Linked DNA regions of Homo sapiens: region 2 is linked to region 1. The links come from fine-mapping of genetic effects on gene expression. A gene starts in region 1. The other region holds a variant in brackets. All regions are shown on one strand. Distances are from middle to middle.

Region 1 (5,357 bases):
TTCCCCTTCACTTGGTGACTGTACTTTCAGTATTTTTTAAACTGTCAGAATGTACTTTTTAGGCCAGTGTTTTTATTTAACTAAAACTTCATAAAAACGGATACTGACGTCATATACTAGTCAATGAAAAATAACTCTTCCCAAGCTCAAACTTAGGAAGTGCTGCTTATTGATGTTTCTCAGGTTCTACATTAGCAGCTCCAAGAGAGCTAAGGCTGATCTCATATACCTGTGTATGTAACCTAGGTAACCAGCACTATCTTGCACTTTTTGCTGAACCCACACAGACGGGTCACTAGGTGATGGAGACATCAAATTCAATCTGTTATCTTCTCCATTTTTACTAGAACAGACCTTACCTACATACTTCAGAAAAGAACTTATATCTGTATCGTGACCGTCAAAGGAAGAGGTCACAATACAGAAATCTAAGTATTTGCATGAAACAAATACTCAGATAATCCTATATTTTATTTTCTTCCATGCACATTAGGTTTTTTGTGATCCCATTTAGTAATATAGTTAGAATACTCTATACAATATTGTTTATCACTATTTCACATAGAGATTATCATTGAGAATTTTGTTTTGTTTTGTTTTGAGCCTGTCGCCCAGGCTGGAGAGCAGTGGCGCAATCTCGGCTCACTGCAAGCTCCGCCTCCTGGGTTCACGCCATTCTCCTGCCTCAGCCTCCCGAGTAGCTGGGACTACAGGCGCCCGCCACCACGCCCGGCTAATTTTTTGTATTTTTAGTAGAGACGGGGTTTCACCGTGTTAGCCAGGATGGTCTCGATCTCCTGACCTCGTGATCCGCCTGCCTCGGCCTCCCAAAGTACTGGGATTACAGGCGTGAGCCACTGCGTCCGGCCGAGAAATTTTTTAAAAACTTGAGGGAATTACTTAAAGTTTAAATTCTATAATGTGAAAAATACTAAAAATATGTATAAGTGAGATCTTTCATGCATTTAATTAACAGTGCTAAACCATGACTTTCTAAACCATGACCAACGAAAAAATTTTTAAAAAGAACTTTATTACACGAAGATTCCTAGAACTAAAAGCGTCATTGCCTGACCTAAAGAATTTCAGGTAAGTGAGGTTCACCTCCTGATTTTAACCAAAGGCTTCGGTTTCCATCTGAATGCCAGCCGGCTTAAGAGGAGGCTGCTGCTTTAAAGGAGCGATATAAACGAAAAAGTTCTCAGGTCACAAACTTAGCTCAGATTCCAGCCCCGACAGATCTTGAGCCCATGTGGCATCGCTTTCAGAGCTTCCCAGTCTGTGAGTCAAGCCCCCGCCTCCTCCCCTCCCCGGGACTGCCTCGGGGATGAGGTTTACTAACAATTTCTCCGAGTGCCGGCGGAGCCCAGGAGCGCTGGAATCCAGCGTCTGGGAGAGGCTTGGGGAGCTCTTCCTCGGCTTCTGCAGCCGCAAAGTAGGGTTGCCAGCGCCAGGATCTGCACACAAGCCGCCGCCACCTCCCCTGCCCCCAAATGGCTGGGGTACGGAGGGAAAGGAGGACGCGAGGGTGTGCCACCCAACCCCGCAGAGTGAAGCCGAGGCCCCAAGGACCGTCGAGGAAATCGCGGCTGGGCCGGCCAGATCCGACGCACGGAATGCGATCTCCAGGTTCTCATCGTGTTCCCGGCTCGGTGCTCGGCGTTCAAGGGGGTGGGGAGGATCGAAAAGCTGCCCCTCGAGGCTGCTCCGCCGCCGGGGAAGCCCGTGGCTCAGGCTTCACGCGTCAGGCGCTCTCTCGGAGTCCAGCCGAGCCGGGCCCGGGCGCGCAACCCGCGGCGCTCCGCTCTCAGCCGGGGACGTGGCTCTCCGTCTCCCGCCCGCGCCGGGACAGCCCCGAAGGCTACCCGCCCGAAACTCCCGAAGAAAGTTGCGCCGCGCGCCCCAGCTCGTCCCTTGCGCGCCCCTCCACTTACCGCTCCCAGCCGAGGCTTCGTTCTCTCCGGCGTCGCCTCCGCAGCCTCCAGAGCCAGCTCCCGGTCCTCCTCACTCCAGGGCGCCCGGGCTCCCGGCCCCCTCCGAACCGAGCCCTCCGCGCCCCCGCCGCGCCATGCCCCGGGATGCGCTGCTGCAGCCTCGGGCGACGCTACTGAGAGCCGGGCCGGCGGGGGCGGGTAGGTGTGGGCGAAAGGGGCGGAGGGAGGGACGCGGCGGGCGCTGAGGCTCCGCTGGAGGGGGGAGGAAACCGCAACGTCACCAGAGCCAGAGGAGACGAGGATGAGGAGAGGGAAACGGGGACCCCCTCCCCCGGCCGAACCCCGACCGCAGGCCCGCCCCGCTTTCTCCCGCTCCTCCTCTCCCGGGACTCGCCGCTCGCAGCTGTGCTCGGCCTTCCACGCCACCCGGCCCGGACTCCACCCGCACCCCCGCCCGCCAGGCCTCTTTGGCTCTAACTTGTTCTAGTTTCTTAGGACTCAAACGCTTCGGGTTCGAGAATCACACCCAAAGGAAAGGTAACTTTTGGAGGCCCAGGGGGAGGAGCTGATGCTTCCATACTACTCTGCGAGAGGAAAGCGAGGAAGACGTTAAGACTCTTACTACCGGGACTGGTGCCCACTCCAGTCTGCCTCCTCCCGAATAGTTACTGCCTCTTTTCTCTCGAATTCGGTTTTACTCTCTTCTCAAAGAGAAGTTAGTGGGAGGGGGGACTTTGGGGCGGGGGTCACCTATAGAGAAGCAGTTCTCTTTTTTACTGTACCAACAAAATACACTAAATCCAAGCGCACCGAACCCTGCAAACGGAACAGATTTTAATCACAGAAGGTCAGGAGCAAAGCATTTAATGTAGGCAGCTCACAAACAGAAATTTATCTTACGCGGTGGGGGGGTGTGTGTGTGTGAGAGAGAGAGATCCCTCATGCACCCAAGTTCAGGTGGAGCATTTGCAACCTTGGTAGTCACAGCCTCCTGGAGAAGAGTCCTCCTGTTTTCCAAAAATCAGCCACTGCTCAAACACGCTCAGCCAGGTCCAACCAGGCCCCAAGGAGATGTGAGGTAGGATCAGGGCCATCACCTCAGGAATACTTTGCCCCTTCCACCTCCACCCAGTGTGTGCAAGTAACCTACCAGACCTAGATTGTACAGAAGTGAAAGATTTGTAGGATACTTACCCATTCATTAGAATGAGAGATATTTTACTGGGAGCAGTGCTTTTCTCCATGAGTTCTGAAGGGCACCTCCATCCAATTCCTCTATCCTCAGAGGTTCTCACTTCTATTTGGCCAAATAAGGAAAAAATGTGGATGTCTCAGTTTATGCTTCTCTTTTTCAGAAATTGCATTTAAGAGGAACTCCTTACAAACAGGTCAAGAGGAAGTGGTACTATTAAATTTTTTAAATGTTCACTCAGGTGAACCACTAATTTGCATAAACTTCTTGATGCTTTAGGGAAGGCCTGTCGAGGAGAGAAGAGGGCTCTGGAAACTGGAACTAATCTTTGGTTCAAATCCAAACTTTGCTTTTACTACTGTGGGCCTTGGAAAACTAACATCAGAACCTCAGTTTCCTCATCTATAGTGTAACAATATAATACCTTGTTTGAACAGTTATGGAGAGGATATAATAAAAATAGCTAATGTTTATTGAGAGTTTACTACACCATATCAGACGGTCACTGTGCTAAGAGATTTACATATACTAATTCAATTATTAGAATAAATTGTGAAAGTGTCTAGCTGTATTATGTAATCCGTAAGTGTTAATTTCCATTTATCTTCTCAAATTTGAAAGAGACTTTAGAAAAAACATCTGGTTTAATTTACGTAACCTCTCAGCAAGTAGTAGTCTAGTTCAGTGATTCTCCAACCTAGAACTTTAGAATCAGCAGGGGAGCTATAATAAATTCTTTCCAATGGGGACCCCCACGCAAGAACAACAAATCAGAATCTCTGAGGTTAGGGTCTAAGCATCAGCATCTGCATTTTAAAATCTCTTCCTAGATGATCACAATGTACAACCAGGATTGAGAATTCTTCAAAGGAGGTAGTACTGACTGTCATTTGCTCCCCTTTACCCTCACACCCCCCACAATTTTGCTTTTGAGTGACCTGCGAATTGGCCTCTGGATGACATTCACTTTGTGCAAAGCCCCCCCCGTCCCCCCGCCCCCGCCCACCCCATTACAGTAAGTCTCAACAGATCTGCTATTCTGCTCTCTGGAATCTACAGGATACACCTAGCCTTGATTCCACAGGAGAATACTTCAATTTACCTGGGTACATATTAACTCCATCAGCTTTTCTTCATCCATTAGGAAAGCTCTCAGGAGGAGATTTACTTTGCCAACATCTCTCTCAAACCCTGATGCCAAGAATTGAATTCAAGGTTTCACCCAAGTGACAAACTAGAAAGATGTTTAATGGCTTTGTTGTAATTACTGTATTTCCCTAAGTATATCCTTGGAGCTTCCATGGCAGCAATATTACCCAGCTGACTCCATATTACAATCTACCAAATAAAACCTTAAAGTGTTAAAAGTTTAGTTGGAGAATCACTGAACTAAACAACTACACTCAATGCAGTGTTCAGCACTTTACCTGTGATTCTACTGAATTTTATTGTGTTAAATTAGGCCTCTTAGCTTGTTGACATATTGGGTATCATTGATATAACTGAGTAATTCCACCTCTCAATTTCATGACCTCTGTAAATCCGGTCTGTATGCCATGCCATCATTTAAGTTCTCATTCTCAGGTACCTTCCTCTGCCAACCGACACTGGATTTGAATGCTACTGATGAACATTCTTATCAGTTGAGGACCCACATGTTACCTTGTCCTATTTTTGTCTGTTGTCCCAGGGTAGCAGCCTGTGTACATGGGTACGTGGCACTTTTGTAAGAATTAGAAAAAGGTATCCCCACTCTCACCTTAGCTGAAGGATTAGGAAAAAGTGACCCCTTACGCCTAGATGCAGCTCCAAACAGACAGCAGATGAGCTTTGTCTATTGGATGTCTTTGCTCTACTGTAATATTGTCAAAAAACAAAGGAAATGACTACTTAGTGAATTGTGGTTCATGTCTACAAAATTGTGTCTTCCTTTTCTAAGTATCCAGATGTCATTTTAATAATAGGTTTATTCATTTTGTTCAGTATCTGTGAAAAGTTTCTTGCCTCGGTTTCAGACTAAGGCAAAAACTGGAACTCCATCTGTCCACCTCCAGTTTTTTAGTGTTCATCTCCCTCTGCTGATTCTAGCTGAGAGTCCTTATTGGTAAACTCTCCTTGCTGAGATGGAAATTTACTAGGCAAGAAGAAGTTAAGCTTTAGACAGCTAGGACATATTTTCTTACAAGCTTCTTCACCTATCTTTTCAGTTAACTCTTTGAAAGCTTATTTTA
Region 2 (5,382 bases), 97 kb before region 1:
TCTTATCTTCTGTTGATTATCCCAGAAAGTCCAATGGTCAGCTTCAGTCATCAGATCATTTAGGTGTTGTAGGGCAGGGGTCCCTAACCCCTGGGCCATGGGCTGGTATCGGTCCATGGCCTGTTAGGAACTGGGCCACACAGCAGGAGGTGAGTGACAAGCGAGCAAGTGAAGCTTCATCTGTATTTACAGCTGCTGCCCATTACTTGGATTACCGCCTGAGCTCCACCTCCTGTTAGATCGGCAGCATCTAGTGAGGGATCTAAGTTGCATGCTCCTTATGCGAATCTAATGCCTGATGATCTGTCATTGTCTCCCCTTACCCCCAGATGGGACTATCTAGTTGCAGGAAAACAAGCTCAGGGTTCCCACTGATTCTACATTATGGTGAGTTGTATAATTATTTCATTATTACAATGTAATAATAATAGAAATAAAGTGCACAAAAAATGTAATGCACTTGAATCGTCCTGAAACCACCCACCCCCACCCCTGTCTGTGGAAAAATCGTCTTCCAAGAAACCAGTCTCTAGTGCCAAAAAGGTTGGGGACTGCTGTTGTAGGGAATGTGTGAGGTAGTTGTTCAGCTCATTCAGAATAAAAGCCAGAGTGCTTACAGTGGTCCAAAGGCTTACATAATCTGTCCCCAACCCCTTTATCTCTCTGACTTCATGGCCTATTTCTGTCCCCTAATTCGCCATTCTCAGACCACCTTGATTAACCCTTCATCCCTTCAATCTTTGCTCAAAGGTCGTTTCTCATGAGGGCAACAGCTCTCCAATCTCCAGCCTTTCTAATGCTTCTTGGGGTGCTCTCCGTTTTCTTTTTTTCATAGTATTAATCTTCTCCTTACATACCCAATTATTTATTTTTTATTATTATTATTATTTATTGTGGCTGCTCTTTTTTCCTCCGCTTCCCCCTAGAATGTAAGCTCCATGAGGACAGAGCTTTGGTTTTGCTTCATTGACACATGCTAGAACATGCCCAGAATGTATCAGACACTCAATAAATATTTGTTGGTTTAAGTGAATGAAATAATAATGAAATCCTATGAATCAATAAGGAAAAGACAGACAAACTAAATATAGAAAATGGGCAAAAGGTTTGAATAGGCATTTCATAAAAAAGGATATCCAAATGGCTAGAAAAGAGATGTATAGATGCCTAAAGTCTGCAATGATTAGGGAAATGTCAGTTGAAACCACAATGAGAGATACCATTACATATTCCCCTGACAAAAAGTAAATAACTAGAAATACCAAATATTGCAGAAGTGAGAAGCAATGAGAATTCTTATAGTAGTATAAATGGATACAATCCTTTATATTTGACATGATATAACAAACTGGAATATGTGCATACTCTCATGCTACCACTTATTCCCAGAAATGCACTCTGAAGAAACACTTGCTCGTGTTTATCAGAGTACAAGTGCATGAATGTTCATACCAGCAGTGCTGATAAGAGCCAGAACTGGGAACAACCCAAATGTCCATCAGCAGTTCAATGGACTACATTATAGTATATTTGAACAATAAAATACCACACAGCAATCAAAATAAATAAATTGTCCTAGACATAATGTGGATTAATCTCTTAAAAACAAAAAGAATATCACAAAACAATTATTACAGCACGATTGTATTCATTTAAAGTTCAAAAACCAGCAAAACTAAGCATGGATAGTTTAGGAATGCACACTTAAGTGGTAAAACAGCAAAAAGAAAGAAATGATCACTTCTCACTTCTAGGTGGAAAGAGTTGGAAGTGTGAAAGGATGTATGAGGCAGGGGTTTCTGGGGTGCTGGAAATGTACATTTCCTTCCACTCTTCGGTGGTTACATAGATGTTTGCTTTGTAATAATTATTAAATTGTACATAAATGTTTCATATACTCTTCTCTGTGATTTATTTCTCATAATTTTTAAAATGGCAATAAATTGCCGGATCTTGTAGGATATTCCTTTCATTTGGAACTTCTTAATGTTCTAGTCCTTGTGGCAAATCATCTTGAAAGAATATACCCTTTTTTGATTTGGATCTTTTAAAAAATCATTTTATGTATGTATGTATTTATTTATTTAGAGACATGTCTTGCTCTACCACCCAGGCTGGAGTACAGTGGCACAATAATAGCTCACTGCTACCTCAAACTCCTGGGCTCAAGTGATCCACCCACCACAGCCTCCAGGGTAGCTGGTACTACAGGTGCACAGCACCACACCCAGATAATTTTTTTTTTTTTTTTTTTGGTAGAGATAAGATCTTGCTATGTTTCTCAGGCTGGTCTCAGAACTTCTGGTCTCAAGCAATTCTCCTGCCTTAGCTTCCCAGAGTGCTGGGATTACAGGCATGAGCCACTGTGCCAGCCCTGATTTCAGTCTTTTTCACTGGATAAGAATATAATATGAT[C/T]AATTCCACAGTCCTTACATTGCAATTTACAAGAGATATTTCATAAGTATGTAATGAAGAGGAAGGGACAAAATTAAGTCAACTAAAGGCTTTGCTTTTGGGGTAGGCTTAGTGTGAGGTGTGCTAAACACTCAGTGGGAGTGCGCTGCTGTCAAAATAGGCCCTGGCTGCTGCTGCTGGGGCTGACTCAGAGAGGGAGGGTTTCTCCATCTTTTATCTTGGGGAGAATAATTTATTGTAGGCCACCTGGTAGATAAGATGCAGGATGTTGTGAAATTTAGAGTTCCAAGATGTTTTTCAGCCAGAGACATTTGAGTATTTGGCTAATTCTATTTTCAGATACTCCCCTTAGGACTTGCTTCTTTAGTCAGTTCATTGAGCATTGATATTTCTAGCCATGGCTTTGGATAAAGCAAGGAGACCATTCTTAATCTTATGCCTTGTTATTATCTTGCCAGTACTCGATACAACGTAGAATCATCTCTTATAACAATGTGGTTGTTTTTCAGCAAATATTAATAGCAGATTCTGCATCTGAATCTCTTTAAAGGTTAGGTGTTCAGGATAGCATAAAGCTGGGGGTGATGATGAAGAATCATTTGGTAAACCAGCAAATAAATACATACTGAGTGTAGAAATGCTTCTTCAGCCAATGATGCAGCCTGTTTGGGCCAGGCCCAGAGGAGTGGTGACTTCTGCCAAATAGCAGTGACCTTGTTCCCACCAAGAAATAACTTACTGTGTCTCAGTCTCACCATGTTTATTCAAAGTGGTCTTTCCTGTTAGTAGTTGCTGAGTTTCAAGATAAAACGTCAAATATTGAGGGTCACTAAGGAGATCTGTATCTCTTCTGCCCACAAAGTCACATGGGCTAGGAAGGGAAAAATCTGACCCAGTAATAAAAACAGCCAGTGGCCACATTAAACTACATCATCTAGGGAGGATCCGTACCCTACCTTTGGTTTTGCCTTTATTGACATGTAACTTTGGATTAATGATGTAACCTCTTTAACTTTCGATTCCCATTTGTAAATGTGAGTGAGGTGTTTCACGGGTAACCTGGAAACTTGTTAAAATGAAATGAAATAAAAGATGCAAAACTGCTTTTTTGACTGTAAAACTCTACACCAGGGTAAGGTTACTTTTTAAAAATTTCCAATTATACATTTAATATTTATTATTCATTACAACAACTCCAAAGATCAAAAGTGCATGAAATTAAAAAAAATTCCTGCACCAATCTTAGTCCTCAGAAGGGACCACATTTGATAATTTAGTGCTTACCTTTCTACACTTTATGAATGTGTGTGCATGTGTGTGGGGGCTGGTCGGTGGGGTTAACAAAAAAGGGATAATATCCTACTAACCAGTAAAATACTAAGTAGCAATTTTTTAAATGAGGTAAATTGTCAGATACTGACATGGAATAATTGTACTTTATGTGTAAAAGTTACAGAACAACACTTATGATAGAGTTTATGCAGACACAGAGTTTATACATGGCTACTTCTGAGAAGAATATATTGCAAAGGAATGAGGTAATTTTATTTTACTTCTCACCATTCTCTACCATTACAATTATTTTCTTAAGCATATATATTTTCACAATAATTATTAAGGACTGTGCAAGAGGAGGTGGAGCATAAATCAAAACAATGGAGACAATATGATACTACTGAAGATGCAAGTATAAGTGATAGAACATAAAAAAAGTTTTGAAAGGAAAGAATATACAAAAAGATATTGGAGGCTGGGCGCAGTGGCTCACATCTGTAATCCCAGCACTTTGAGGCTGAGGCAAGCAGATTGCTTGAGCCCAGGAGTTCGAGACCAGCCTGGGCAACATGGTGAAACCCCATTTCTACAAAAAGTACAAAAATTAGCTGGGCATGGTGGCACATGCCTGTGGTCCCAGTTACTCAGGAGGCTGGGGTGGGAGGATCACTTGAGTCAGGGAGGCAGAGTTTGCGGTGAGCCAAGATCTTGCCACTACACTCCAGCCTGGGTGACAGAGTGAGATCCTGTCTCAGACGAAAAAGGAAGCAGCAATTGGAAAATGAAATAAAGGAAGTAAAAATGAAACTAGGTATGATATGATTTTCAAAAGCATTCTTTTAGGGAATGAAAAAAAGCTGATCACGCTGTTTCTGCTGCCAACTTTCTTGTTACGCATGACTCTCAACAACAGGATATTCTGCCCTGTAGGTTAGTTCTTTTTAACGGCCTTATGCAGAAAAAGGTAAACAGAAATCAGCATAAGCTTCTGCCAAAAGAGGAAGAAGGGCTAAATATGACCAGTGCTCAATTATTTTATAGTTTAAAGTTTTTTTATCTCATATTTTAAAATTCAGAAAACAGCCACAAATTTGGGGAATGGGCAGGAATGACAAGCTAATGGAAGGCAAGGATCGCTGAAAAGTCCCGGCATTATAAAGTTACAGAATTTTATCCGTAGATATAATTGCTCTCACCGTCTTTAGAGACTTTCTATCAACAAATCCTGCCACATCTATGTACAAAGTCTACCTTGAATCTATCTACTTTTTCCATTTTGGTCCCCATCCACTCAGTTCAAGTTCACTCCCACCTATTTCCACTGTAGTGGCCTCCTGATTAGTCTCTCTCCTTCTACCCTGGCTCTCCTGCTTCCCATGTCATTCCTTTTCTCTCAAGGAAAGCAAACCATCTTCCTAAAATGCTCATATGATGAAAACCAAAATCCTTCTCATGGTTTCCAGGCACTGCACACTCAGTCCCTTGCTCATTTTTTTCAGTCGCCTTTCAGGTTTCCAACTCTGCTAACATCTTTTTCTCCCTAGTCTTTGCACATACTGTTCCTTCAGTAGGACTGAAATGCTCCTTCTTGCTACCCTACAGGATTCAGTTTTCAAAAAGTTTCCTCAAATCCCTTCTCCCCTAATCTAAATCAGGTCACAATTTGCATTTCTTTGTATGGTATTGGTTTTA

What was found. PIP is the estimated chance that this variant, and not a neighbour inherited with it, causes the effect.
Region 2: its variant is fine-mapped to the expression of DSE in whole blood (INTERVAL, PIP 0.97).

Annotation. Positions count from the first base shown.
Region 1 is chr6:116,367,699-116,373,055 of GRCh38, reverse strand. It overlaps DSE (dermatan sulfate epimerase), which reads right to left and starts at 2,109. Exons shown (of 6, transcript NM_013352.4): 1 at 1,935-2,109. It overlaps LOC100287467 (a long non-coding RNA gene), which reads left to right and starts at 1,337. Exons shown (of 1, transcript NR_148944.1): 1 at 1,337-5,357. RefSeq lists enhancers at 1,238-1,738, 3,253-3,302 and silencers at 1,736-2,030, 1,793-2,322.
Region 2 is chr6:116,464,539-116,469,920 of GRCh38, reverse strand. No RefSeq gene overlaps it. Among named protein-coding and RNA genes, the nearest start is that of CALHM6-AS1, 3.5 kb to the right of the region's middle. The variant C/T (reference allele first, on the strand shown) is at 2,416.